Homo sapiens: one gene and its partner. The protein of the gene in region 2 purifies or fractionates together with the protein of the main gene of each other region. This does not show direct contact. Each region holds a gene or a part of one and is shown on either strand. Other genes may lie near its edges.

Region 1 (3,755 bases), on a different chromosome or scaffold from region 2:
TTATCCCACAATAAATGGGGGAGTAGGTATTATTATCTCACATATAAGGAACTTGAAGCTCAGAAAAATTATGTCAGAAGTCACACAGCTTCTACGTGGTTGAGCCTGGAATCACACTGAGCAATACTGGGACTCTAAATCTCCTGCTCTTTTTAAAAGTTCATTGCTCTTTGCAGGAAGGGCCCAGGAATGGTACAGATGATGCCACAGCAAGGATTGATTGATTAGCCAGTGTTCCTATACTCTTCTATTTTGGTTAAATCAAGTGATCCTGTAATAAATTAAAAAACTCTTTGGAAATCTTAATGGCCTTTTTGTGGCCAGAGTGACACTTACTTAGATAACTATAAATTTCTCCTCTTCCAGAAAGTGTTCCTACATTTAGAGGATCACAAACTGCTGGTCTGAGTCAGTGATTCCCGCCCTGACCGTGAACTGTGATGTGTTTGCCTGTCCAGTCTTCCTAAATTCCCCAAACCGGCAAAAGGCAGGGATATTTTAGTTATTTACGTGAAAAAGCCAAGTCCAACTCACTTGTGCATCTTTTGGATCTTGTCTCCTCACCTCCAATCTTTATTAACTATGATAATAATCATCCAAAAAAAAGTTTTGGTTAACCAGCATTTAATTATTTTTTTCTCAGCCCTATCATATAAAATAAAAGTAAACAATTTTCTAACAGGTATTTTAAAATAAAGCATTTATTTAATCATTTGAGTAAAAGATATTTTCATTTAGACTAATGACAGTGAAGGGAATGTTAAAACATTTGTTGTAAAACATTTTTCACTGATCTTTTGTTTTTCTTGTTTACCCTTTTGTAAAACCTTTTGTAAGTCCACCAAATTTCACTAGCATTTAAGTGTGCTTCTAGAAAAAATAAGTCTTTGTGTAGAGGGAAGTCAAGAAACATAGAAAGAAAACCAAACACTTTAAAAAGGAAAAAAGGAAAAAGTTCCTGCATGTGGTTTTGTTTTGTGTTGTTTTGTTATTTTGTCTCTAAAGGAAAGAAATACCAGGCCGGGAGCAGAGGCTCACGCCTGTAATCCCAGCACTTTGGCAGGCTGAGGAGGGCAGATCCCTTGAGATCAGGAGTTCGAGACCAGCCTGGCCAACATGGCCAAACCTCATCTCTACTAAAAATACAAAAAATTAGCCTGGTTTGGTGGTGCATGCCTGTAGTGCCAGCTACTCAGGAGGCTGAGACATGAGAATCGCTTGAACCCAGGAGGCAGAGGTTGCAATGAGCCGAGATCGTGCCACTGCACTCCAGCCTGGATGACAGAGCGAGACCCTTCTCGAAAAATAAAATAAAATAAAACAAAATAAATAAAAAGAAGAAAATACTTCTTATTTTTTTGCAGATTTTGTCAAGTAATGTTAATCATATGCCAGAGCTTGATGTTAATGAACAAATTGGAGGAATGGTGTGGGCATCTGGGAAGTCCATACGTTGACTTAACAATCCGTTTATCTCACATGGCCAGCAAATTAAATAATATGTGAGTTAAACAAATAAATGATACATACAGTTTTACATATCTGATCTTTAAGAAAACTCATTGGAAATATTTTAATACTAAATATAACATGTTCATACCTTCTCTCAGCAAATGCAAAGATCCATGTATCTCTAGCCTCAAGCCAAGGACCTGGAGTAGAGTGAGTGTCTGGGATTCTGACAGGATGCAAAACTCAGCATACTTAAAATCCTTCCTGGTGCAGAACTGTCTTCAAGTCTTAATGAGTCTACTGTGCTCTCCTATAATAATTTTGTCTCTAATGGGTTCTGAATTATGTAAGGCATCTTCTGGAAACATGAAATTCCTCTCTAAACCTGGGCTTTCCTTGTTATTTCTAAAGATTCTATTATCTATCTGTCACTTCTTGTTGAGGTCATTGTAACAGCATCTAGCAGCATCTGCCCACCACCCATCCATCTACCCTGCCTAGTAAAAACAAAAATACTATGTTTTTGAGAGATAATCTGACTTCTTAAGAAAACATATAATTTTCTCCACTTTCCAAAATGTATAGTTTTAGGGAGGTTGTTTCATTCTTTTCACTAAGTAGTAAAATTTGTGACTCTGTGACATCTATTTCCTGTGCTACTCAGATTTTTTTTTCTCTTTCTCTGCAGACTGTAGCTTGTTCAGATGGTTATGAGTAGCAGTCATTGACCTCTAAATAACTCAGCTGTTATATTTTAAGAAGAAGCAATGGGTTGTAGTGGGAAAACAGTAAATTGAAAGTCAAAACACTTATTCTTCGGCTTCAGCTCTCCCGTAGCTTGGACCCGTTCGCTGTTCCATCCTCCTTGCTATATGATTGAGGTGCTAAATTAAAGAGATGAACTTCATGTGGGAAGTACTTCATGTGTTATGAATTGTTCTAAGATTGTTTGCTAGTTTGATGGCTTAAAAACTGTTACTTTCTCCCAGCACTTTGGGAGGCCAAGGCAGGTGGATCATTTGAGGTCAGAAGTTCAAGACCAGCCTGGTCAACATGGTGAAACCCCATTGTATTTTGAAACAATACAAAAATTAGCCAGGTGGTAGTGGTGCGCGCCTATAACTGTAGCTACTCAGGAGGCTGAGGCAGGAGAATCGCTTGAGCCTGAGAGGCAGAGGTTGCGGTGAGGCAAGATTGCACCACTGCACTCCAGTCTGGGCAACAGAGTGAGATCCTGTCTCAAAAAAAAAAAAAAGAAAAGAAAAAAAACTCTACTTTCAAGAGAGATATTAACCTTATGTCTAGGAAAGGATCTTAACTTTCTAATAAGATGCAATGATTCTAGTAAATAGCATAACTTGGTTAAAATGGAAACCTCTACAAGTAATGCTAAGCAAGAACAGGATTTGATGGATACCATTTTTTTACTTCCAGTCTTCTCAAGGTTTGATATGATTGATGGGGTATGCGGGCGTTGAGAAATACAGAAACAACAACAAAAAATTCTCTAAGGAACTGGCTTTATTGTGGAAAATGCTTACAGAGAATACTATTTTATTTTCCTGTTGTTCATTTGTATTGATTTACTCAATGCCAGCTAAGATTTGTGATCAAGTGTCTTCCATCTTCACTGAGATCAAAATTTAAAACAACAGTACTAAAGCATAAAATAATGTTCTTAGATGTTAGAAAAGACATCCTTCAGTGAAAGACTAAGAAGAGTTACTAATTGTGAAAGGCTTTCCTCTATAATGCCACAAAAAAATAGGACAGTTTAAAAGTATGTCTTTTATGGAAAGAAGAAATAATTGCATGTGATGTTTATCTAAGATCCTGCATAAATTTTGTGTTGAAAAAATTCATAATATATGCATGCATAATTAAAATAAGAAAATATGTAAACAAAGAAAAATACTTTTCCACTCATGCCCTTCTTTAATAAGTTGCATCGTAATACAGATTGCATTTGTTAATCATTGGTATTTCTTTGGAAGATTCACTTTAGTCAACCAAATTGGAAGTTTTGATTGCTTGTGATGAATCTCTTATAGCCCTTCTTGATTATTTTTCTAAATTTGATGACAAACATTGCAACATGTCTCAGCCAATTAGGCTTGTCAACTTCCTCTGTGGTCCCCAATCAAGTGTTTTACTTTGGAAATGACAGGAGATCCTTATTAAAAGTCATGCTTCTTGGATAGAGATGTGGCAGCTTGCATGTATATGATGGCACAGAAGACAAGCTGCCTTTCGTTAAAAGCAATAGAGGAAATCAATTTTGGCAGAAAATACTCCAGACTGTG
Region 2 (3,755 bases):
TGGAATAGAACAAGGACATTAGTGGAAAAATTGGAGAAATCCAAATAAACTCTGTAGTTTAGTTAATTATACAGTACCAGTGATGACTTCTTAGTTTTGATAACTCTATTATGGTTATACAAGAATTTAACACAGGGAAAGCTCAGGGAAGGGGATATGGGAATTCTCTATTTTTTAAACTTTTCTATTAAGCCTGAAGTTTCAAAATAGAAAGTTTTTAAAAAAAAGTTAATAAGACAGCTGTAATTATATTGTTGTCTTTTTATACGTTTACAAAGGGCCAAATTCACTTGATGCTCTTTCTACCACTACCCTGCTGATGTGGTTTGGCTGTGTCCCCACCCAAGTTTCATGTCGAATTGTAATTCCCAGTGTTGGGGGAGGGATCTGGTGGGAGGTGATTAGATCATGGGGGCAGATTTCCCCCTTGCTGTTCTCATGATAGTGAGTTCTCAAGAGATCTGATTGTTTAAAAGTGTATAGCACTTCCCCCTTCACTCTCTTGCTCTCTTGTTGCCACAAGATGTGGTTGCATCCCTTTCATCTTCTGCCATGATTGTAAATTTCCTGAGGCCTCCCCAGCCATCCTCCTGTACAGTCTGTGGAACTGGAAGTCAATTAAACCTCTTTTCATTATAAACTACCCAGTCTCAGGTAGTTCTTCATAGCAGTGTAAAAATGGAAGAATACAAAAAATTGGTACCAGAGAAGTGGGACATTTCTATAAAGATACCTAAAAAATGTGGAAGCAACTTTGAAACTGGGTAACGGGGAGAAGTTGCAACAGTTTGGAAGGATCAGAAGAAGACAGGAATATGAGGGATGTTTGGAACCTCCTAGAGACTTGTTGAACAGTTTTGACCAAAATGCTGATAGTGATATGGACAATGAAGTCCAGGCTGAGGTGGTCTCAAATGGAGATGAGGAACTTATCAGGAACTGGAGCAAAGGTCACTCTTGCTATGCTTTAGCAGAGACTGGTGGCATTGTGCCCCTGCTTTAGGGATCTGTGTAACTTTGAACTTGGGAGAGATGACTTAGGGTATCCGGCAGAAATTTCTAAGCAGCAAAGTGTTCAAGAGGTGGCCTGGTTGCTTCTAAAAGCCTATGCTCATTTGCATAAGCAGAGATAACTTATATTTAAAAGCAAAGCAGAGTATAAAAGCTTGAAAATTTGCAGCCTGACCATGTGGTAGAAAAGAAAAGCCATTTTCTGGGGAGAAATTCAAGCTCACTGCAGAAGTTTGCACAAGAGGAGCCAAATGTTAATAGCCAAAACAATGGATAAAATGCCTCCAGGGCACTTCAGAGACCTTCGTGGCAGCCCTCCCCAGCCCCACCAAACAGGCCCAGAGGCCTAGGAGGAAAAAAATGGTTTCGTGGGCTAGGCCCTGGGCCCAGCTGCTCTGTGCAGCCTTAGGACATGGCAGCCTAATTCCCAGCTGCCCCAGCTCCAGCTGTGACTAAAAGGGGCCAAGGTACAGCTGAACCATTGCTTCAGAGGGTGCAAGCCCCAAGCCTTGGCAGCTTCCACGTGCTGTTGGGCTTATGGGTGTGCAGAAGGCAAGAGCTGAGGTTTGGGAGCCTCTGCCTCAATTTCAGAGGATGTATGGAAACGCCTGGATGTCCAGGCAGAAGTCTGCTACAGGGGTGAAGCCCTCATGGAGAGCCTCTACTAGGGCAGTGCAGAGGGGAAATGTGGGGTTGGAGACCCTACACAGAGTCCCCACTGGGGCACTGCCTAGTGGAGCTGTGAGAAGAGAGCCATCATCCTCCAGACCCCAGAATGGTAGATCCACTGACAGCTTACACTGTGTACCTGGATATGCTGTAGGCACTCAACACCAGCCTGTGAAAGCAACCATGGGGACTGTACCCTGCAGAGCCACAGGGGCAGAGCTGCCTAAGGCCTTGGGAGCCCACTCCTTGCATCAGAGTGGCCTGGATGTGAGACATGGAGTCAAAGATTATTTTGGAGCTTTAAGATTCAAAGAGTGCCCTGCTGGGTTTCAAACTGGCATGAGGCCTTTAGCTCCTTTGGGCCAGTTTCTCCCACTTGGAATGGGAGCATTTACCCAATGCCTGTACCTCCATTGTATCTTGGAAATGACTAACTTGTTTTTTATTTTACAGGCTCATAGGTGGAAGGAAGTTGCCTTGTCTCAGATCAGACTTTGGAGTTGGACTTTTCAGTTAATGCTGGAATGAGTTAAGACTTTGGGGGACTGTTGAGAAGGCATGATTGTGTTTTGAAATGTGAGAAGAACATGAAATTTGGAAGAGGCCGGGGTGGAATTGACATGGTTTGGCTCTGTGTCTCCACCCGAATCTTATGTTGAATTATAATTCCCAATGTTGGGGGAGGGACCTGGTGGAAGGTGACTGGATCATAGGGACAGATTTTCCCCTTGCTGTTCTGCTGTTCTCATGATAGGGAGTGAGTTCTCACAAGATCTAGTCGTTTAAAAGTGTGTGGCATTTCTCCCTTCACTCTCTTGCTCTCTTGTCGCCATGTGAAGATGTGCTTGCTTCCCCTTCACCTTCTGCCAAGTTTCCTGAGGCCTCTCAGCCATGCCTCCTGTACAGCCTGTGAAACTGTGAGTCAATTAAACCTCTTTTCTTTATAATCTACCCAGTCTCGGGTAGTTCTTTATAGCAATGTGAGAATGGATTAATATACCTGCCACCCTTTTTGCTGGGACCATGCCTCAGAGTTTACAAATCTGCTCCCCATGTACTATCTCCTGGAATCCTCAACAATGCTGTGAGACATTCCCACTTTGAGTTGATAAGATGGGGCTCAGAGAGGCAAGACCTTACGCTTGCCTAAGGTCACCCAGCTGCTCTTTCCTTTCTCCTGCACAGTTACATCAGAAGCCAGTTGGTGACAGAAAAACACGGTCCGCTCAACAAGGATCATACACAAGCCGGTGATACTTTATTATATAAGAGAGTTGTCAAAAGGACAGTTTCATTTCTGTTTCAGAATCCCCACATTCCAGTGATCCATCTGTTGACACAATTAACATAAACTATTTGCTGATATTTACTGAGTGCTTGCAATGTATCAGAGTCATTAAATAAGATGCAACTTCTACTGTGAAAACTGGAATCTTCATTAGGACACAGACTTAGAAAAGGCCCAGTTTCAAGGATTCTGACTTGCACAGACTGAGCACTCCCATTTCCAGAAGTTCGAATACCTCCTTTCTTATCTAAATGAGAGAAAAGGGGGGAAAAAAAGATTAAGATCAAGCCAAAATGGTCTTGGTGAATACATTCAACCATCAGGACTCCCTGATATTTACCCAGCTGTTATGGCCAGAATCAGAGAGTGCAAAAGTCCTAACACACATTTGATTCAGAGTTGAAATTTTTAAAATTATTATTATTATTATTTTGAGACAGAGTCCCATTCTGTTGCCCATGCTGGAGTGCAGTGGCGTGATCTCGGCTAACTGCTATCTCTGCTTCCCAGGTTCAAGTGATTCTCATGCTTCAGCCTTCTGAGTAGCTAGGATTAGAGGTGTGTGCCATGATACCTGGCTAATTTTTGTATTTTTAGTAGAGACAGGGTTTTGCCATGTTGGCCAGTCTGGTCTTGAACTCTTGGCCTCAAGTGATCCACCTGCCTTGGCCTCTCAAAGTGCTGGGATTACTGGTGTGAGTCACTGTGCCTGGCCTATTATTATTATTGTTTTGTAGAGACAGGGTCTTGCTTTGTTGTCCAGGCGGGTCTCGAACTCCTGGCTTCA

The links. The genes of interacting proteins can lie anywhere in the genome.
Region 1: the proteins of CMSS1 (region 2) and PCDH7 purify together in Homo sapiens (affinity purification with mass spectrometry; 3 studies listed by BioGRID and IntAct, with this or other methods). This does not show direct contact.

The regions. Positions count from the first base shown.
Region 1 is NC_000004.12:31,136,283-31,140,037, forward strand, and holds part of PCDH7 (protocadherin-7 isoform d precursor), read left to right. Parts: intron 1-3,755.
Region 2 is NC_000003.12:100,177,765-100,181,519, reverse strand, and holds part of CMSS1 (protein CMSS1), read right to left. Parts: intron 3,216-3,755; coding exon 3,132-3,215; 3' UTR 1-3,131.